Homo sapiens: one gene and its partners. The protein of the gene in region 2 interacts with the protein of the main gene of each other region in a pairwise test. Each region holds a gene or a part of one and is shown on either strand. Other genes may lie near its edges.

Region 1 (7,200 bases), on a different chromosome or scaffold from region 2:
GCAATCAGAGGTTGTTACCCAGTCCTCCATCCTGGGCCGGGTTCCCTCAACCTTATGGCTTCTGGAGTCTCAACTGGCAATGCTGTCTCCTGGATTTGTCCCAGGAGGCTGGAGTGACTCTGCCTTACCCTGGCTCCTGATTATAAACCAAACTCCAAAGAGCTAAGTAATATCTAGCTCCTCCTTCTCCCTTGCTTCACTCAAGCCAGGAGTGTCAGGGCCAGCAGATCACATCTCAAGCTTCCCCAGAGAATTAGATGGGCCCTGGCTCTACACTGGAAGCACTGTGTGCCCTGGGAAAATAAAGCCTGACCTTCAATTCTCCACGTCCCTGTTTGTAATGTGAGTTAGTAATAACACTTCCCTCCCAAGACTGTTGTCAGGATTACGTGAGGAAATGTATGGAAAGCTCCTGACACGGTGACAAGCAGGGACCATTATTAGATTTAACGCCACTACTCTTAAGACCAGCCCAGGGTGATACTGGACTGGAGAGGGTCCCATCAGGCCAAGACAGAATTCAGTTAGGAAGGAGGAGTTCCCTCCTGCCAGGGTGTTTGGCTGTGGGTCTTCACTAAGGAAAAGTTTGTTTGTATGTCTGTCTGCTTGTTTGTTTGAGACAAGGTCTTGCTCTCTTTCCCAGGCTAGAGTGTAATCGTGTGATCACCTCACTGCAGCCTCAAACTTCTAGGCTCAAGCAATCCTCCTGCCTCAGCCTCCCAAGTAGCTAGGACCACAGGGGCACACCACCATGCCTGGCTAATTCTTTTTTTAATTTTTCGTATAGACGAGGGTCTCACTATGTTGCCGAGACTGATCTTGAATTCCTGGGCTCAAACAATCCTCCTGCCTTGGCATCCCAAAGTGCTGGGATTACAGGTGTGAACTACCATGCATGGCCAGAAAAAGTGTTAAAATATCAGTTCCCTGAAGGATTAAACACACTCAACATCTTTCCATCATCCCAAAATGGCAAAAGAGCAACAGAATTTGAAAGCAGCTGGCAGAATCTAAAGACGGCGAGCAGAAACAAAACAAAACCGAGGACCAACCCCTTCACAGATCTTTCTCTTTTTTTCTTAATTTTAGTTCTTTTTACTTATATATTTTAATTATTTTTTTCTTCAAATTTTATTCCAAGTTCTGGGGTACACGTGCAGGATGTGCAGGTTTGTTACGTAGGTAAGCGTGTGCCATGGCGGTTTGCTGCACTGATCAACCCTTCACTGAGGTATAAAGCCCAGCAACCATTAGCTATATTTCCTGATGCTCTCCCTCCTCCCGCCTCCCCCCGACAGGCCCCAGTGTGTGTTGATCCCCCTGCACGTGTCCATGTGTTCTTACCATTTAACAGTTCTTTCACCCAGGTAAAAGCACCCAATTCTAGAACTATACTTGATAGTTACGAGACATTTTCATGACTACCATCATACCACATGCTCTCAACAGCCCTGCGAGGCAGATATTATAGATATCATCATCCCATTGTACAGATGAGGAAACTGAGAACTAAGAAGGGAAAGCGATCCATATAAAGTTGCACAGTAAGGCCGAGTGCGGTGGCTCACGCCTGTAATCCCAGCACTTTGGGAGGCCGAGGCGGGTGGATCACCTGAGGTCAGGAGGTCGAGAGCAGCCCAGCCAACATGGTGAAACCCCGTCACTACTAAAAATACAAAAAATTAGCCAAGTGTGGTGGCATGTGCCTGTAATCCCAGCTACTCAGGAGGCTGAGGCAGGAGACTCACTTAAACTTGGGAGGCAGAGGCTACAGTGAGCCAAGATCCCGCCACTGCACTCCAGCCTGGATGACAGAGTGAGACTCGGTCTCAAAAAAAAGAAAAAAGTTAAGTTCCACAGTGGGTGGCAGGGCTAGGACTCAGAACTGGGTCTTCAGACTCCGGGTTCCTCCTCTTTTACCAGTACATACTGAGCGAGCACTGGAGGGTAAGAGGCAGTTACCAGCCTGTTTCTCCCACACACGTGACCTCTCTTGACTCCGCAGACATCTTGTGGGGGTGGGGCCGGTGTTACTATCTCCACTTTACAGACAAGGAAGCTGAGGCTCAGGCCCAAGTCTGTGTGCTACCAAGTAGCAAAACTGAGCCTGGAACTCACACATGCGTGTCTGAGAGCCCAGCACTATCGCCAGGAAAACCCAGCGTCTCCCTGCTCAAGCCTGACCCTCAGCCCTCTCTGCCTCTCCCTGCACTTGCCTTCCAGTCAAGGTGATTCTGGATAAATACTACTTCCTCTGCGGGCAGCCTCTCCACTTCATCCCGAGGAAGCAGCTGTGTGACGGAGAGCTGGACTGTCCCTTGGGGGAGGACGAGGAGCACTGTGTCAAGAGCTTCCCCGAAGGGCCTGCAGTGGCAGGTGAGTGCAGGGTCTGAGGCACAAGAGAAGTGGGCCCAGCAGGAGGTCTGCTCAGGCCCCCACGGCCCACTGCATAGTATCTGCCCCCTACTTGTCACTTTTCATCCTTGTTGTATAAGGTTCTTTGTTTGTTTGTTTGTTGTTGTTTTGAGGCAGAGTGCTCTGTGGCCCAAGATGGAGTGCAGTGTCTTGGTCTCGGCTCACTGCAACCTCTGCCTCCCAGTTTCAAGTGATTCTTCTGCCTCAGCCTCATGAGTAGCTGGGATTACAGGTGCCAGCCACCACGCCTGGCTAATTTTTATATTTTTAGTAGAGACGGGGTTTTGCCACATTGGTCAGGCTGATCTTGAACTCCTGACCTCAGGTGATCTGCCCGCCTCAGCCTCCCAAAGTGCTGGGATTACAGGCGTGAGCCACCGTGCCCAGCTGTGTAAGTTTCTTGAGAGCAGGACCCTGTCTTGTCTACCTTTAAATCCTAGTACTTAACACACAGCAAACAGTAACTATTTGATGACCAAATGTGAGCCAGAAAGGACAGGAAATTGTAACTGAGGCTGCCCCATGCGTGCTGCGCCTGGTGGATTTCAGGCAGAGGGCTAGACTGGGTGACCTTGGGGCATTCCTCCTTTCTATGAAATTTGTTATTTCAAGGAGACTAGAAAAGAGACTTCTCAGCCACTTCGCCAGCTATTGGTCCTTCTATTCATTAGTGTTTGCTGAGACATGCTATGTGACAGGACTGAGCCAGGTCCTTTCAATGGATAGGAGATGTTTTGAGCATAAAATCCACGTTCTCTCTTGGGCTGGGCTCTTCTACCTTCTTCCCCCTGGTGCTTGGGCTCTGAAGAAAAAAAGATAGGTAGGAGATGAGTGATGGGGCTTCTGAGGGCAGGGCTGAGTGACTTTCTGTGTATTTGCTCTTTCTTTATCAGAAGTCAAATGCCCACAGGCACCTGTCATCCTACTGCCAGTAGGACTTCTCACTCAACCTTCCCCTCTGACCTTACTTGGAGAAGGACTTAGGTCCCTCTCTCAGACATTTCCCCAGGCTGGGCAAGTTGTGTGGACCATGGATGGGTATGTGGTCCATACAATTTAAACAAGCTGTATATGGTCGCTGGGTAGAGTGACCACATAATTGATCATCAAAACTGATACCTGTAAGAGCAAAAGGGGGCACTATTAACCATTGGGTCAGGGCAACAGGTCAAAATGGAGACCTACCCTGGGACTTCTGGTCACACTAGCTACTGTCAAAATGGGGCCCAAATAGACAAAGCCAAATGGAAGAAATTCCCTTGACATTGAAAGTGTTGGGGCTCTGTGGCACCCCCAGTTCTAGGTTGGGGGAGCTTGGGCTGGTCTCATGATGAGTTCTGAGGGGGATGGGCCAGTTGGGCCCCCCGTTCCATCTAACTCAGGTTCCTTTCCTCCCAGTCCGCCTCTCCAAGGACCGATCCACACTGCAGGTGCTGGACTCGGCCACAGGGAACTGGTTCTCTGCCTGTTTCGACAACTTCACAGAAGCTCTCGCTGAGACAGCCTGTAGGCAGATGGGCTACAGCAGGTAACCAACCTGGGCCTCTCTCCTTTTTCCCTCCTTCCTCCTTCCTCCTCTTCCTCCTTTCCTTCCTCCCTTCTTCTCTCTTTCCTAAAAATTACGGGCATTGGAGCCAGGCAGAATGGCTTTTGAATCCCAGCATTTCACTTATAAGCAACATGAAGTTAAATTTCCTAAGCCTCAGGTTCCTCAGGAGTTAATTGGGGGAACTAATGCCAACCTCATAGGATAGTTTTGCAATGCCAGTGAGAGAATGTGTGCTGCCCTCCAACACACACACACACACTTCTAGCGTCTATGCAGTCCTCTCCTTTCCTTTACTCCTCAACCTTCACTCCTTTGTGCTGGCTTTGCAAGAAACTGTTCCTGCCCAGTAATACAAAAGCTAAGTTAACTTATTCAAAGTTTCGTTAGTTAAGATTTAGCTTAAGTGAGCCTAGTTTCAGTGGGGCCCCATCTTCAGCAATCCCAGCTCTCTCTGCAAATTTCAAAAGCAGTTCCAAATCTGGAGTGGATGAAAAGGTGTAAGATGATAGTAAGAGTAATTTGCATTCTATATATTTATATTCACTTGATTTTGGCAGAAAACCAAAAAGATAGTTATTATATCTTATATATAGATATATATTATATCTATTTCATAAATAGGCTCAAACAAAGTAAGTAACTTGCTAGGGTACTAGCTGGGAGGTAGAGGGCTAGAATTTGAGCCCAAGACCCCTAATTCTTGCGCATTAGGAGTTCCCACATTGTTTCTGTTTCTAGACTGAGTAATTCTTTATTCTCATGTAGGACATCATCTCTAAGGGAAGGGGCTAATGAGATGGTTGATCACTCAGAGAGTTTAGCTGGAGAGGATGGAAAAGAACCCATACATTCAGTTGCAGATTGAGATAGCCTATCTCTGGCAGGCCTCAGATTTCTTCAGGATTCTAACAGACTGGACCCAGAGACTAGGCCAAACAAACAAACAAACAAAAACTCTACTAGGCAGACATCACCAACCAATCACAGAACTCTCTCCCATGGATCCCTAATACAGCCTCAAAGTCCTTTTCAGTAAATGCTCCAGGCAGCCATTACAAATCAATCAGAATTATTTGCCTTTCTCTTCTCTGCTCAACGGGCTTCTGCTGCTCTCTACTTTCCATAGGGGGCAACTTCCATTACCCTCTAGAAAGCACACCCCACCACCTTCATTTCAAGGAGAGTGAGGAACTCATGCCCAGCACCTGCTATTCTCCCCTCTTCCTGCAGCCACGGAGCCCAGCCTCGCTGCAGCCAGCCCTGCCTCCCCACTGTAGTCCAGTCAACTGCTGCATCAGCCGTTCCTGGCACAGCAGGCTGAGCCTTGATTATGAAACCTGGGTGTCTCCAGGGGTTCTTAAGATGATAGGCTCCTGGAATTTCTGTCCTTTTGGAGCTCAGTAAGGCACCAAACCACCTGAGTCTTGTGCTTCACAAAATCAAAGTTCATCAGAATCATTCATTGGGATGGAATTGGTGAACAGAAGTTAACTTTCCTGGGAATGTCCATTTCCACCATATTCCGTCCTTCTAGGTCTCAGACTTCTCTACTTTCTTTCCTCTCTCTAGATCGGAGGCCCTTCTTGTCCTAGAACCATAGGCATTTCAAGATGTGGGAGACCCTAGGGATCATCTAGTCCACGCATCTTTTTTTTTTTTTTTTGACAGAGTCTCACTCTGTCACCCAGGCTGGAGTGCAATGGCACCATCTCTGCTTACTGCAACCTCCACCTCCCAGGTTCAAGTGATTCTTTCGCCTCAGCCTCCCAAGTAGCTGGGATTACAGGCACGCACCATCATGCCCAGCTAATTTTTATATTTTTGTAGAGACCGAGTTTCACCATGTTGGCCAGGCTGGTCTTGAACTCCTGACCTCAGGTGATCCACCCACCTCGGCCTCCCAAAGTGCTGGGATTACAGGCGTGAGCCACTGCACCCAGCCCCGTGCATCTTTTTATAGAGGGGGAAACTGAGGCTTGGAGAGACCCAGAAAAAGAATATGACCTGCCCAAGGCCACACATCAAACTAGTGCCAGAGCCAGGGACAGAACCTAGATCATGAGGACTCTTAAAATGCACTCTAGTCCTCCCAGGTCTGAGACTTGGGTCCTTCCAGGAAGTGCCAGCATTCCTGCCTGAGAATGTGCCAATCCACCAGTATTGCCAATGACTCAGCCCTCCATGGAGAGCTTCTACTAACATTACTAGCATAGTTAGGGATGGAAGGAAAAGATTTAGAAGAGGCAGATTCAGTAAAGGAACAATCAGAGAGATGGAATTAATCAAGGAAGGCTTCCTGGAGGAGGAAAAACTTCAACCCAAGGTTTGAAAGTAGCAAGCATGGATTAGCAGGGAGAAAGAGGGAGAGTGGTCCAGTTGAGAGAAACGTTTGTCTGGATTCATATGAAGACAGATCTAGTCCTGTTCTATTAAATATCTCTAAGGGGGCCAAAAACATACCCCCGCTATCAAAGTCAGACCAGATGCTTTGTTTGGAGAACGAAATATCCACATTCCAACTCCCTCCCAGGTGAGAAGGGAGCTAACCTGAGCCCCTATGCCTCTTTGTTTCCCTGCTGTGAACCAGAAGACATTGCTGGGATATTTGAAATAGGGACAGAGCTGGGAATATGGAAAGGAGACCCCTAACATTTCTCCAGGGCTCTGGGTTCTGGATTTGGATTCCCCACCCAAGAAAGCAAGTTACATCAGCAATGCACTGAGGGTTGAGTCCTGGGATGCCAAGGGTCGGTTCTTTATTGTATAGCAAAGCAGGCCCCATCTTCACTGACTAAGACCATCTCCACTCCCTGGCCACTCCCCACCAAGCATTCTCTGCCACTCTTTCTCCTGAAAGTGGGGGCCAACTCTACCATCTTGTTCTAACCCCCTGCCCCAGCTCACAACTCTCTCTCCCTCTTGATGTGAGCAGCAAACCCACTTTCAGAGCTGTGGAGATTGGCCCAGACCAGGATCTGGATGTTGTTGAAATCACAGAAAACAGCCAGGAGCTTCGCATGCGGAACTCAAGTGGGTAAGTGAGGGGACACCTTCTGGCCTACAGAAGGCCCCCACATGGACGCTGCTCTTCAGGTTGCAACCAGCTCACCTGGAACCCCAAGCAGCCAGGGGAATGTAAGCAGACATCAGGAAGAACTCCTAGCCAGATGGATCATTCAATGCCAAGAGCTATAGACTCACATTTTGGAGAGGTTTTCTGTGTTGACTTGTTTTTA
Region 2 (7,818 bases):
TGAACTCTTTCCAGCATCAACTGAAAGTGCAAAGTCTCATCTGAGACTCAAGGCAAGTTCTTCCCACCTATGACCCTGTGAAATAGGAAACAAGTTATTTAATTCCAAGATACATTGGTGGTTCAGGCATTGGGGAAATATTCCCATTCCAAAAAGGAGAAATTGCCCCAAAGAAAGTGGCAACAGGCTCCATGTAAATCCAAATTCCTGCAGGCAGACATTAAACCTTAGAGCTTAATAATAATCTTTGACTTTGTGTCCCACATCCTGGGCACATTGGTGCAAGGGGTGAGCTCCCAAGGCCGTGGGCAGTTCTGCCTGTGGCTTTGACAGGTGTAGGCCACGTGGCTGCTCTCATAGGTTGGAGATGAGTGCCTGTAGCTTTTCCATGTTGAGGTTGCAAGCTGCTGATGACTCTACACTTCCCTATCACTCCCCTAAGACTCTTCCACACACACACCCCTCAGCCCCACAGCAAAGGCAGGGGGAGATTCACAACACAGGCTTTGAGGCCTGTTTTCTTCCATCTCCTGAAAACACCACCTACCTCATCTTTCCTTTTCCCCAATAGTTTTGAGCTACGTTCTTTTGGATACATGTTATGGTCACATGGGTGAAAATTCAAAATGCATAGCAGAGTCTGTCCCCAGAATCGCCCAGCGTCCATCTAGGCTGCCCTGGGCCTTGGTTTGCTCACCTGGAGGATCTCAGAGGTGCTCCAATATCAATAGTGAGACTGCCCACACCCTCCTCTAGGGCTGTGTGTGATTCCACTGCATGGATGGACTCTGATTGTGTAGCATCTCCCAGTGGAAAATCATGGCACTAATTTTATCGTACTGCAGAAACACTGTAATGAATAATCATAAATCTACTTCCACAAGCAATATCTGAGTGTATAGCATAGTTCCTAAAAGCAAAATATAGCAGTGTTATACGTTCTTTCTAATTTTAATAAAATGAAGTTGTTCTCAACTAAAAGTGGGCAAGTTTACATTCCCAACAGTGAGCTGAGAAGGTGTGTATGGCCCTGCACTTCAGCCTGTATCAGTGTCTGTTCCATCCACCAGTCTCTTTCTGTATCATTCCTCCTTGTCTTGATCACTGTCTTTCTGACCCTCTGTCTCTTTCTCTACAGCATCCACCACCTTGGGGAATGGCTCAGCCCTTCCAGTCCTGGAAAGCCAGTCCCTGTATGTGGTCTGTGCTGTTGACAGCAATCCCCCTGCCAGGCTGAGCTGGACCTGGGGGAGCCCAACCCTGAGCCTCTCACAGCCCTTGAATCCTGGGCTGCTGGAACTGCCTCAAGTGTATCTGAGGGACGAAGGGGAATTCACCTGCAGAGCTCAGAACCCTCCAGGAGTGATGCTGCAGGCGGTCAAGGGGGGCTGGAGCCCCAGCCTGGTCTTCCTGTCCTTTTGTGTCATCTTCATCGTGTGAGCATTGACCCTGGAGAGGAAGGGAGAGCCCTGGGGGAGGGTGGCCTGGGAGCAGAATCCCTGAAGCCGGAGCTGGAAGGACCTGGCTGAGTCAGGAGTATGAAGCAAGGGAGAGAATGAGCATGGGTGCATGGTGAGAATTTCATGAGTGCCCTTGTTTGTGGGGCCACATGTCTGTGACAAACCTCGGGCCCCATTGTCCAGGAAAAAAGAGCCTCTGTTTTCAATGTTGGGGTCTCTGGGACTACAGCCTGCTTGAATTCCTCCCCTGAAAATGGGCTTTTCTTTTCTACCACTTGGCCAGGCTGCAAATTATCCAAACTTTTACACTCTGCTTCCCTTTTAAATACAATTTCCAGCTTTCAGTGATTTCTTTCTTTGCTCACACATGAGCATATGCTGTTAGAAGCAACCAGGCCATGTCTTCAATGCTTTGCTTCTTAGACATTTCTTCCACGAGATACTGAAAATCTTCACTCTTGTGCTCAAAGCTCCACAGATTCCTAGGGCAGGGGCACAATGCAGTGAAGTTCTTTGCTAAGGCATAACAAAATGGACCATCGCTCTGGTTTCCAATAAGTTCCTCATTTCCGTCTGAGACCTCTTCAGCTTGGCCTTCACTGTCCATATCACGACCAATATTTCAGTCATAACTATTCAACCAGTCTCTAGGAAGTTTCAAACTTTCCTTCATCTTTCTGTCTTTTTGTGAGCTCTCCACACTCTTCCAACTTTTGCCTGTTAACCAGTTCCAAAGTTGTTTTCAAATTTTCAGGTGTCTTTGTAGCAATGCCCCACTCCTCTGTACCAATTTTCTGTATTAGTTCATTCTTCCATTGATATAAAGAAATACCTGTGACTGGGTAACTTATAAAGACAAGAGGAATAATCGGCTCGTGGTTCTGCAGGCTGTACAGGAAGCAGGATGTTGACATCTGCTTGGCTTCTGGGGAGTTCCTCAGGAAACTTACAATCATGGCAAAAAACAAAGGGGAAGCCAGCATGTCACATGGCCAGAGTAGCAGGATAGAGCAAATGGGGAGATGCTGCACACAGACAACAAGCAGATCTTGTTAGAACTCACCCACTCTCACAAGAACAGCTCCAAGAAGATGGTGCTAAGCCATTCATGAGAAATCCACCCCCGTGATCCAACCACCTCCCACTACAACCCACCTTCAATATTGAGGCCTATAATTCGGCATGAGATTTGGTGGGGACACAGATCCAAACCATATCAGGCTCTAATCCTATTAGGCTAATCCAAACCACCTATCTAAACACCATGCCTTCTAATACTATCACATGGGGGTTCAAAGGTCAACAAATGAATTTTGAGGAGAGACATGTAGCTGTAGCACTTGTCACTCTGGTCCTTAATATCTTCCTCTCCAAATTATGGAAGTGGGTCTAGAGGGCCCATCAGCTCCTCTGAGTCATATGTGGTTCAAACGTTCTTCCTTTGCAGATTCTCTGTGGCTTCCTCATGTCTCTCCTTCCCATTTTTCTGCTTTTCTTTGCCAACTGGGGACTGTGGGAAAGAGATGGGCCGTGGTCGAGCCCTTCTTCCCATTGAGATGCTGCAACTGTCCTTACGGGAAGAAAGTGACACGGCAAGGATGGGGGCCCAGGAGCAGATTGGTCTGCAGGATGAGATACAAGCTGCAAATGCAGGAATTAGTGGTGTCAGGGAGAGGAGCAGCTATGCATGCCCCAATCCTGCACATTTCCTTTTCAATTATCACAGCCAACTGACTCTACTCCAGGTTATGGGCAATTGGGGACAACATGGGGATGGGAAGATCCATGGAGCTGAGTAAAATAAAACAGATTGTGGTTTTTATGTAAAAATAGTCTTTAGAAAAACCTATGCAAAGCCATAGTATTGAAGGCAGTGCACTCAGATGATAAAACTACATAGAAAAGCAAGGAGACCATTATCATTAAAGTGAGGCTGGGGCATCTTCAGGAGGAACTGCATGTGGCCTATAGGAAGGGGAAACACAGGGCTGAATAAATGAATGCAATTTCTTTCTTCATCTCATGGGAGAAATTTGGCAATTATCTTGTGATGTTCTATTTCTTGAACAGTGATAATTTGGTGAAAATCACTGAGTCATTTTTTTAGGTGGCACTTTTATTTACTTGTATTACATTTCCCCAAAAATCATTGTTTCAAGAAAAGCTGACATGGGTCTAAGGAGGGCGAATCTTGCAGGATTTTCCCCACCTTCCTCCCAGTACATAGCATACAGTTTCAAAAACTCTTCTGCTGAATTCAGGTGCATTTCTTCTCCCATGAAATCCTGTCCATCATTGAGCGTGGACACGCCAGGGCTGGTGTCCTCGCTCCACGTCTCCTGTTCACCTGAAACCCTGGGAGCAGAGCCTGCAGGAACAAAGGGCCAGCAGACCCCTCATGCTCTGGAGTAAGGAGGACTTGTGAGAGAGCAGTGGTGAAGGATCCCATCCTGAACCCAGAGAGCCATGGCCGAGAGAGAAACGCCTGCCCCTTTAGAAATCTGTCCCTTCCCATCCAACATTCCTCCCTTCCAGACCTCACTGTACAACAGTCACAGCCTTAGCTTCTCAGGCCTCCTGTGAACTGGGCTCTTCTCTGTGTCTTTGGTGTGTATCAACACACGGAATCCTCACCTCCACGACCCCGTGTCTCTCTGCTCAGTCCTCCCGAGACTGATTCCCCAACATAGGAGAGAGCGACCACACCCTGCCTGGTACCCCCACTGAAGCTCCTGCCATGGAGAGCTCAGATATCAGGAGCCTCAGTGTCTCCCCACTACACAGTGACTCTTTGGGGACAGTGTCTAGCTCTGCTGTGTTGAACTCCACCTCACGGCCGCTGAGGGAGGAAGGAGAGGTTGCCTGCTCATCCCACCTGCACCCCCATCTCTTATATCCTAGTGTCACCTCTGACCTACAGAGAGACATCCACAGCCTGTACTTCATAGGTCTGGCCACATGGGACTCATTTTCACCTTATGGAAAATATCACCCAAGGGGAAGGGCACTGAGAGGGAGGCAGTGGGCGGGGTGGGCCCTGCATGGGGTTGGAATCTGGGTGAGTCTTTCATCCTCTCTGGCCTCAGGGTCCCCAGGAGTGGACGGGGTAGTGGACGGTGGATCTTCCAGGGGTGACCCGGCCCTGACAGTGTCTGTGTGTGAAGTTCCTCCTGTGAGGTCACCGTTCAGAACCCACCCCCAACTTCCTGTGCGGCTTCCTCGAAATCTTGAGTTCTCAGTTCCTGAGAGAAGAACCCTGAGGAACAGACTTACCTCAGCAACCCTGGCACCTCCAACCCGACACATGCTACTGCTGCTGCTACTGCTGCCACCCCTGCTCTGTGGGAGAGTGGGGGCTAAGGAACAGAAGGATTACCTGCTGACAATGCAGAAGTCCGTGACGGTGCAGGAGGGCCTGTGTGTCTCTGTGCTTTGCTCCTTCTCCTACCCCCAAAATGGCTGGACTGCCTCCGATCCAGTTCATGGCTACTGGTTCCGGGCAGGGGACCATGTAAGCCGGAACATTCCAGTGGCCACAAACAACCCAGCTCGAGCAGTGCAGGAGGAGACTCGGGACCGATTCCACCTCCTTGGGGACCCACAGAACAAGGATTGTACCCTGAGCATCAGAGACACCAGAGAGAGTGATGCAGGGACATACGTCTTTTGTGTAGAGAGAGGAAATATGAAATGGAATTATAAATATGACCAGCTCTCTGTGAATGTGACAGGTAAGGCACGGGCTCCAAGAGAGGCCAAAGGCAAATGTGATGAGGGCTTTAGGGCACGGCTGAGACGGGACACATGTCCTGGGAGGGGGCCGGGGGTGATGGACTCAGGGGAGGAGCTGGACCAGAGCCTGAGCTTCCCCAGGACCGCACCTTGGATGCCCCTCCTGATCCTGCAAGCCCCTCCCCTCACCAGCCCTGACCCACAGGCCTGACATCCTCATCCTGCCTCTGACGCTGGCACTGTGGCATGTGGGGCCTTATGACTCCTTGTTTTGGGGCCTGTCCTAGGCATGGCCGGGGTTTAGCACCATCCCAGGCCTCTCCCCACCAGATGCCAGAAGCACCCACCCCACCCATGCAGCGAGACAATTATCTCCACACATTGTCAAACGTCCTGGGGGGTTAAGTCCTCCCCAGTTGAGAGCCTTAGGTCTACACAACCCCGTGACTCTCTCAGGCCAGGCCAGGGAGGAAGCACTTCCTGGCGCAAACCAAGGGCAGCAGAGGCACCTGAGCCTGGACAGGGAGACTCAGCACACGGCCCCTCCATCTCTCATGCCCCGAGGTCCTCGGAGATCCACATTTAGATGCTCAAAAGACAGGAGGGACCTCCACGATGGTCCAGAGGCCGGGAGGGCAGGACCTACGTGTCTGGTGCAGGCCCTGGTGCTTCAGGGAAGCCCGGAGGTAGGAGGCGGGACACGGTCTCTTCTCCTCCCTGGGTGGGTCTCTAGGGTCTCTGAGCTTTAGGGTTTCCTTCACTCTGTGCAGAGGGAATGAGTTCCTATAGCATGTGGGTTTGCAGTTTCTCTTCCATGCAGGGCTGAGGTCTCCAGCTCCTCTCCAGCCCCCTGTGGGTCCCACAGCCCTGCCCCTCCTCTCCCTCCCCCTTCTCTGCTCACACAGGGAGCCCAGGAAGCCTCTGCCTCAGAGATGCTGCTGCCCCTGCTATGGGCAAATGAAGAGAGGGACAGTGGGGGCTGGGCTGACCCTCGTTTCTCCACAGCGTCCCAGGACCTACTGTCAAGATACAGGCTGGAGGTGCCAGAGTCGGTGACTGTGCAGGAGGGTCTGTGTGTCTCTGTGCCCTGCAGTGTCCTTTACCCCCATTACAACTGGACTGCCTCTAGCCCTGTTTATGGATCCTGGTTCAAGGAAGGGGCCGATATACCATGGGATATTCCAGTGGCCACAAACACCCCAAGTGGAAAAGTGCAAGAGGATACCCACGGTCGATTCCTCCTCCTTGGGGACCCACAGACCAACAACTGCTCCCTGAGCATCAGAGATGCCAGGAAGGGGGATTCAGGGAAGTACTACTTCCAGGTGGAGAGAGGAAGCAGGAAATGGAACTACATATATGACAAGCTCTCTGTGCATGTGACAGGTAAATCTCTGGCTCTAGGACCAGCCAGAGGGGAAGGCCCGAGGGCCGCAGGGTAGGGCTGAGGTGGGACCCCCATCCTGGGAGGGAGTTGGAGGTGAAGCATATCTGGCTCAGGGGAGGAGTAAGACCAGAGCCTGAGCCTCCTCAGCACCACACTTCAGACCCCAACACCCTCATTTTGCCTGTCTCCCTTTCATCACCAGCCCTGACTCACATGCCCACCTTCTCCATCCCGGGGACCCTGGAGTCTGGCCACCCCAGGAACCTGACCTGCTCTGTGCCCTGGGCCTGTGAACAGGGGACGCCCCCCACGATCACCTGGATGGGGGCCTCCGTGTCCTCCCTGGACCCCACTATCACTCGCTCCTCGATGCTCAGCCTCATCCCACAGCCCCAGGACCATGGCACCAGCCTCACCTGTCAGGTGACCTTGCCTGGGGCCGGCGTGACCATGACCAGGGCTGTCCGACTCAACATATCCTGTGAGTTCTGGGCCAGGACGTCTGGGTCTTTGATCGGGATTCCTTGAGGCCAGTTGGATGTGGGACCCAGACTCAAGGATCTGGGTCCTGGAATCTTGGCTGGGAGTTGGGGGTCAGGAGGATGCTGGCTCCACCTTCCCCATTTATGGGGCTCCTGGGGAGACAGGGTCAGTGTCCCCAGTCCTCAAAGTGATGGGAACTCCGTGTCTTTCTGTTCCAGATCCTCCTCAGAACTTGACCATGACTGTCTTCCAAGGAGATGGCACAGGTAAGATGGAGTCCTCTCCCTGGGGCTGGAGGAGCAGAGCCTTCAACTCAGGGGAGAGCCAGGACTCACCCTGGTGACCTGAGACCCTTTTGTGGGTGAGCCCCGGCCCCCCCCTCCCTCAGCCTCAGCCTTTTGGCCACCTGAGCACCTTCTCATCACCCCTTCACTCCCCTTGAACTCCTCCACACACACACCTATTTTGGCCCCACAGCAAGGGTAGAGGGACATTCACACAGCAGCTCAAGGATTTGAGGACTCTTATCTTCCAGCTCCTGAATATTGCCTCATCCTTTTATTTTCACCAATAGTTCTGAGGTATATTCTTTTGGATACATACTATAGTCACATGGGCAAAAATTTATAATGCACAGCAGAGTCTGTCCCCAGAATCGACCAGGGTCTGTCCAGGCTGTCCTGAGCCTTGGTTTGTGCACCTGGAAGATCTCAGAGGTGGTTTGATGTCAGTAGTGAGACTGTTTGCACCCTCCTC
Region 3 (7,200 bases), on a different chromosome or scaffold from region 2:
AGTAAGTATCTTGGCACTGTCCCCAAAAGAGGATGACGCTGAGCCACTTGGGGACTATACACCCAGGCTGTAAGATGTTTCATTGCTTAAGAGATTTTTGGAGAGTGATATTTTGAATTGCCCTTGCTGAACTTAAAAACAATGCGAAAAAGAAGAGCTGCTTCTTGTGACTTTGTACTCTTAGTTGTTTTGTGTCACACAGCACGTTGGGGGCTGAGCCACCATGGGAATTGTTGCTGACACCTTTTTATTTATTTTTTTGAGACAGAGCCTCACTCTGTTGCCCAGGCTGGAGTGCAGTGATGTAATCTCGGCTCACTGCAACCTCTGCCTCCCGGGTTTAAGCGATTCTCATGCCTCAGCTTCCCAAGGAGCTGGGGCTAGAGGCGCCCACCACCACACCTGGCTAATTTTTGTATTTTCAGTAGAGATGGGGTTTCACCATTTTGGCCAGGCTAGTCTCGAACTCCTGACCTCAAGTGATCCGCCTGCCTCAGCCTCCCAAAGTGCTGGGGTTACAAGCGTGAGCCACCATGCCTGGCCCGCTGACACCTTTTTAAAAAGTCATGTTTTAGCATCGTATTGCTAATTTCACAATGCTGTGAGTAGAGTAAAGCATTAGGAAGAGTTCAAAACTCGGTCCTTTTTCTTATGTATCTAGACTGTTGGTTACTACAGGGCAGGGGCCACCTCTTGTCTGTTTTCACCCCAGCATTGAGAACAGAGTGGGCATTCAGTTTGTTGATTGCTTTTGAGGTTGGCATCACTAAACCCCATTTCCAGGGGACCTCTGAGTTGATGTCACCCAACCCCATCACCTCCCCTAGGCTTTCAGCACCTCTTCACTGAGGCCTTTGTTAGTACTGTTTATTTTTCCTGGAAGAGGTGAGGAAGTAGCAGTATAGGCATATTCAGCAGCCAGGGAGAACCAAAGAAGAGAATAAAATTAAGATTTTTCTTGTCCCTTCTCTAACCTCTGCTTACATTCCAGCTCGACAGGATCCTAGGGACAAGCACAGCCAGGGTCGAGTCACATGTCTTTGGCACATTCTTGTTTGTTTATCTGTAACCTGGGCTTATGGTCATGTGTGCTCGTATCCTTCATGGTTCCCAGAACAAGACCAGATACATGAATGCAAGGGCCTTAGAAAATGTAAAATCATGTTTCTGCCAGGCAAACTTGCCCTGTTGGTCTGTAACAAGTATTGTAGGGAAGCAACTACCTGGTACAGTTTTGCAGAATGTGAAGTGGCATCCCTGTGGGGAGCCAGGTTGTCCTGGGGCCACTGCAAGCATGGCCAATGCATTCTTAGTGTTTGTCACCTACATGCTTCAGGAGAAGATGTGAGGGTCTGTGCCATTAAATTACACTCTTAAGCTGAGATGGGTCCAGAGTAATTTTATGCATTGGAATGAACTTTAAGAACATGTAGTTCAACCCATCCCATGTTTTAGGTGAGAAAACTGGGAATTAGACTAATTAGAGCATTTGTCCAAGTTCATGCAGTTATGAAATGAGAGAGCCAGGTTTCAAAGCCTTTTTCTGGCTTCAAGCCCATTCATTTTTCTAATGCACAATGATGTCCTTCTCAAGTGTAAATGAGAGTTGATCAAGTAATATAAAGTGAGAACCTACTCATGCCGGATAGTCTATGTTGATGCTGTATAGAATTAAAATATAAATATGTCCATGGATGTGTGGCTAGGTGGAGGATGGCGGAGATATGGGTAAGTTAGGCACAGCTCTCAAAGAGAGGAAAGACATCAGTATAGATAGACATGGACAAAGGAAACGTGGGCGGTCCCCATGACAGCTGCGCCAGGTTTCAGCAGGAGATCTGCCCAGCCAGGGCTCTAGAGTTCAGGAGAAGGGGGTCATTTTCAACAAGCTTAACATGGGGGTGACATTTCAACAGGGCGCTGAGAGACAGGAAGGCACAGGGAAGAGGACACAGTAAGCTCCTTGGGTGAAGACAGGCCTCCCTTAGGAGGCCAAGAATAGAGCAGTTGGGAGGGAAGTTTTTACTGTGTTTCTTTCTTTTTTTTTTTTTTTTTTCCTTCCCTTGGACTTTTCCATCCCCACTCTTCCAGATTTTCTTTTTTTTTTCGTTAGACTGATCTCCCTAACACACCTGGAAAGATATGGGCTTATATAACACTTTTCTAGAGACAATAAAACTCCCGATTAATTCTTTTTTTTTTGAGAGATAGGGTCTTGCTTATCTAGGCTGGAGTGCAGTGGAGCAATCACAGCTTACTGCAGCCTCGAACTCCTGGGCTCAAGTGATCCTCCACCTCTGCCTCCCGAGTAGCTGGGACTATATATGTGTGGCACCACGCCTGGCAATTTTTTTTTTCATTTTTTTGTAGAGATAGAGTCACTCTCTGTCACCCAGGCTGGAGGGCAGTGGCATAATCACAGCTCACTGCCTCAGCCTTCCAGGATCAAGTAATTTTCTTGTCTGTATAGCTGAGATGACAGGCATGCACCACTGCGCCCAGCTAATTTTTAAAGTTTATTTATTTATTTATTCATTCATTCATTTCATTCATTCATTATAGAGATAGGGTCTCACTTTGCTGCCCAGGCTGATTTCAAACTCCTGGCTTCACGCTGTCCTCCTGCCTGCACCTCCCAAAGTGCTGGGATTACAGGCGTGAGCTGCAGCACCCAGCACTAAATTAATTCTTGATCTGTATATTTATTCACATTTCTGTAAGATAGGAATAGAAGAGACTGTGAAGTTAGAATTTGACCCACCTGGCACATGTTGTTGTTTATAATATTAATGGTTAAGAGCAGGAGAGTTCATTTTGAATACTACCTATTAAGGACATGATCTGCCAGTAAAACATCTCCGCACCTGAGTATGTGTCAATACTTTGCAAACCTAATTTAATCCCCGCCTATTTTGAATTTATGATAATTCAGCTGGGCTGCCCTGAAGTTGTTTAATGTATGTAGAAAAGCAGATTAATGGTGTAAACAAGATTATTGGGAGAACACTTAAGAAAACAAGACTTTTCAAGTACTTTGGTAGCATTCATTTACATAAACACCCTACATGTTAATTACGATTGAGTATTATCTATTCATTAAAGCAAGCTTGCTGGGTCTCTACTTGGCAAAAGCTCTGCTCGTTTTGACAGATGCTTAAAAGTGATCGAAATTGCAGTTCTTTTTATATGTTCTATCATTTCGAATTTGCACTAATTTTCTTATTACAGTGAGAAATTTTTGTCTCTGCTTTTCATTTTATTAGGCAGTGGAAATTGGAACATTTGTGTTACAAATCAGGAGAGCTTATCACAGAAACAGGTTACATGGATCAGGTATATTTTCTTCTTGTTGGCAAAAATTTCTCAGGAACACCCCAGTAGTGTGCCTTAACCTAACGCATGGCCTCTTCTTTTTAACTTTGACAGATAATAGAATATCTTTACCCTTGTTTGATTATTACACCTTTGGACTGCTTCTGGGAAGGGGCGAAATTACAGTCTGGGACAGCATACCTCCTGTAAGTGTGTGATCATGCTTTCTGATGTCTGTGACTTCTCTAGGACTCAGTGTTTCTAATGTTGCTTATCATTGTTTGTTCCATTTCAGTTTTGAACAAGAAATAAAAACATTGAAATTCCATGTGCATTTTTTGAGTGAATAGTCGGGGGAGAGGGGATTTCAGCAGAATGTTTTTTCTCTTTTCAAAAAACAATTCTGTAGGCGTCATTAAATTTCATTCACTTTTACCAACCTATTTATATGCAAATAAAATGCAAATTATTGCAGAGTACGTGTGATTTTTTAACTCTTTAAAATGTTCGTAGTTTCGAAGACGAGGCATTTAGACACTTATTTTTTAAGGAGAGACTTTATTAGTGAGTGGGTTCACATCAGAATGAAATATTTTGAGTTTGAGATCTTCCTGTGAAGTAAAAAGCTAACCTTTCTTTAGATCACACTAATGGCATTTAAGGGGGAAATCCACTATCTGTGAAGGCCACAGTAGGGAATGTTTCACCGTTTAGCAGTTGGATATTATATATACCGCATCATTTAGAGAATAATTGTTAATCAGCATAGACATTTTCAGTTAATTATGCAAGAGTGAGAGCTTGGGTTATTGTTTCTGTCCTGGCTTGCACATATCTGCAAAAGCAATTTGCAGTGGCCATCCCCTGACCTTCAGTGTACAGTTTTAGATGGGAAATAAGGGGTTTTGTGTTTTCTGGTTGGGAGATTCCGAATAATGACTTCAGCCTGGTTAAGCAGCTACAGTGTGGTTTGAACCACATAACAGGCAGCCAAAAGCCTTTCTGGTCTGTCAACAGCACAGATTCAAAAGTGAGTGTGGGGGGAAGTGGCTGTGATGGTGGTGATGGCAGAGGCTGCAGGGGGCTTGCCCATTCCATTGCCAGGCTGTCAGAGAGCGCTCATAAGTATGGGATTGTTAAAGGTAGCAGAGATCAAATATTTTGATTGATGACATTTACAAAGTATTTATTTGGCTGCCAAGTGCTAATTTGATATTGTGACGCCCTCTTTTTTAAAAAAAAAAAAATTTAATTTTGGATCTGTCTTTTTGGCTAATTTTGTATGTAGATATTAAATATACAATATCAGCAATTAAAGATTATTCAGTGCCCTCATTAACTTATGAGTCCTCTCTCTGCTTAGCATCTTCAGTCATGAATTATTTTCCTGACCTAAGTTTTTATGCAGATATGCTGGAAAGGAGCATTTGTTTTGATGCCAGAGTCCCAGAACTGCAGCATTGCCAGGAACCTCCTACAAGGTGGATGCAGTGGGCGCAGCCGTGTTACTTTACGATGCGTTTAGAAGGCTCTTTTCATGGTCTCGTCTCCTAATTTCTTTTGCAGAGGTAAACCTCCTTTGCGGTGGACAAACTTCGACCCTTTGGAATTCCTGGAAGAGTTAAAGAAAATAAACTATCAAGTGGACAGCTGGGAGGAAATGCTGAATAAGGCTGAGGTTGGTCATGGTTACATGGACCGCCCCTGCCTCAATCCGGCCGATCCAGACTGCCCCGCCACAGCCCCCAACAAAAATTCAACCAAAGTGAGTACCAGCAGTGAGCGCTCTCAGAAGGGTGGAGAGCAAAACACTTTTTTGTGTCCATTCATCGTTCACTTTATTATTTTCATTTTTAACATTTCATTCTCCATGATCGTCTTTGTCTATGGAACTAAGTTTATTTATAGAGCTAAATTTTGCTGTAAGATTTGCCATACACCTCCCATTAGCCTTGCTATTAATGTTCTCTCTGAAACACACAAGCCCTTAATGCACTGGATTTTAACAAGGCATGTGACCTGCCTACTAATTCCCATAATTATGTGGCTGTCTTTTTATTTTAGCCTCTTGATATGGCCCTTGTTTTGAATGGTGGATGTCATGGCTTATCCAGAAAGTATATGCACTGGCAGGAGGAGTTGATTGTGGGTGGCACAGTCAAGAACAGCACTGGAAAACTCGTCAGGTAAGCCAGCTCCCGAGGACAATCTATGCCCTGTAGTCTTCTTCCTTTCCTCAAAAGCCACTTCCCTCCTGACATCGGCAAGTGTATTTGTATTAATACTTAAACCGTTATCCTCGCTAGCCAGGTGGCGTCATAGAATATTAAGAAATAGTAGCAGACTGCAACAGCTTGAAAAAGCACCTTGTGGGGAATTTTTCAAGAATGGATTTGTAGTTTTCATCAGGACCATAGTTCCTGACTATAGGGTTTAAGGAGATCTGCCCATTAGGTAGAGAATGGGAGCAGGTGTAAAGTAGGCCGGGACACACTGGTCAGAGAGAGTTGGTGGTGCGAGCTGCACAGTGTCATAGACTGTTAGCAAAAGATGGAGAGCCAGCGGCTCAATAAGAATTATCCTTTGTGCACTTGTGGACTCTGGTCAGTCAGGTGTCTGGCGTTTCGTGTAAGATTTCTCCCTTGGGAACGCCACCGTCTGGGATTTCTGCACAGCAAGTATGCGTCACTGAGCCCGGTGTATCTGTTCAAGCTATCTGCTCCTCTCCCCTTCCTGTTTCATGGAATGGAAACTGTGAAAGGAAATTGCCTATTAATTTAATTTTGGGGTATATCTGTAAAAGGTTTGTAAGGTTATACCTTTAATATGGTACATCAATCTATTAAATAAAATAACCATCCTGGTCCCATTTTAATGGAAACATGTGCTCACAGAGAAGGAAAAGAATTGCAGCCAGTGAGTTGGGGGAGCTGGCTGGGGATTTGAGGCAGTGGAAACTGCTTCCTGGGAATACTGATGATGTGCCTTCCCTTGGACTGTGCTGCAGCGCCCATGCCCTGCAGACCATGTTCCAGTTAATGACTCCCAAGCAAATGTACGAGCACTTCAAGGGGTACGAGTATGTCTCACACATCAACTGGAACGAGGACAAAGCGGCAGCCATCCTGGAGGCCTGGCAGAGGACATATGTGGAGGTAAACCCACCTTCGAATCGGCGTGCAGACTCGCTGGTTATGCAATTCTTCATTTTCACCATTATTTAAAACATTTCTTTCCATTCGCTTTATTTTCAAAACATTGCAATTCTGGGAACTTGATGGGATGAAAACTTTTTTCCTCTTCTTTGATATTGAAAATCCTGGGATAATATCTAAAAGACTAGTTCTAATTGGGGTGCCCTGAGACATGTTTAGTAACCAGTTGTGAATTCCAGAACTAAAGCACATAACAGTGTTTAAAAAAACACTTGGTTAGCAAAGGTGTCTGGAAAACATTAGCAAGGCATAGAATCTGTTCACAGCTGCAGGCCCCTTGGTCAGGTCATGTGACAGGAGCTGGCCTTTGTTTCCCAAGCAGTGACCTCTACTGAGCTGCATGTGACCTTTTAAAAGTGGCCAGCAAATGAACAGGGGGAGGAGGGCCATAAGAATGAGTTGTTTTGGATTAGTGGGGAGCCGATGGGACCGCAAGTCAATTGTGAAGTTAACGGAGAAGAGACGAGCAGTCTCAGCCCTGGAGTAAATACAGCACTCAGAGTGAACTCCAGCGACACCAGCCCTCAGCAGCACCCACTGCCACTGATTAGCCATGGCCCTTGTCCTAAAACAGGGTTCTTTAATGTTAGCCCAACTTCAGCTTCTCTCCCTGCCCTGGAATCACGTAGAACTTTTTTAAAAAATGCATCAGAAAAAAAGAAGGGCTGCGCTG

What was found. Proteins that work in one complex are often made in the same cells at the same time.
Region 1: the proteins of SIGLEC12 (region 2) and TMPRSS4 interact in binary tests that used the Homo sapiens proteins (3 or more experiments, as listed by UniProt).
Region 3: the proteins of SIGLEC12 (region 2) and PTCH1 interact in binary tests that used the Homo sapiens proteins (3 or more experiments, as listed by UniProt).

The regions. Positions count from the first base shown.
Region 1 is NC_000011.10:118,100,878-118,108,077, forward strand, and holds part of TMPRSS4 (transmembrane protease serine 4), read left to right. Parts: intron 1-2,223; coding exon 2,224-2,376; intron 2,377-3,813; coding exon 3,814-3,943; intron 3,944-6,896; coding exon 6,897-6,998; intron 6,999-7,200. UniProt on the Homo sapiens protein: Plasma membrane-anchored serine protease that directly induces processing of pro-uPA/PLAU into the active form through proteolytic activity.
Region 2 is NC_000019.10:51,498,680-51,506,497, reverse strand, and holds the start of SIGLEC12 (sialic acid-binding Ig-like lectin 12 isoform a precursor), read left to right. Parts: upstream 1-4,697; 5' UTR 4,698-4,764; coding exon 4,765-5,191; intron 5,192-6,104; exon of another isoform or gene 6,105-6,124; coding exon of another isoform or gene 6,125-6,197; coding exon 6,198-6,578; intron 6,579-6,781; coding exon 6,782-7,060; intron 7,061-7,280; coding exon 7,281-7,328; intron 7,329-7,818. UniProt on the Homo sapiens protein: Putative adhesion molecule that mediates sialic-acid dependent binding to cells. The sialic acid recognition site may be masked by cis interactions with sialic acids on the same cell surface.
Region 3 is NC_000009.12:95,478,267-95,485,466, reverse strand, and holds part of PTCH1 (protein patched homolog 1), read left to right. Parts: intron 1-3,263; coding exon 3,264-3,333; intron 3,334-3,426; coding exon 3,427-3,518; coding exon of another isoform or gene 3,519-3,522; exon of another isoform or gene 3,523-3,640; intron 3,641-4,878; coding exon 4,879-5,077; intron 5,078-5,376; coding exon 5,377-5,498; intron 5,499-6,319; coding exon 6,320-6,467; intron 6,468-7,200.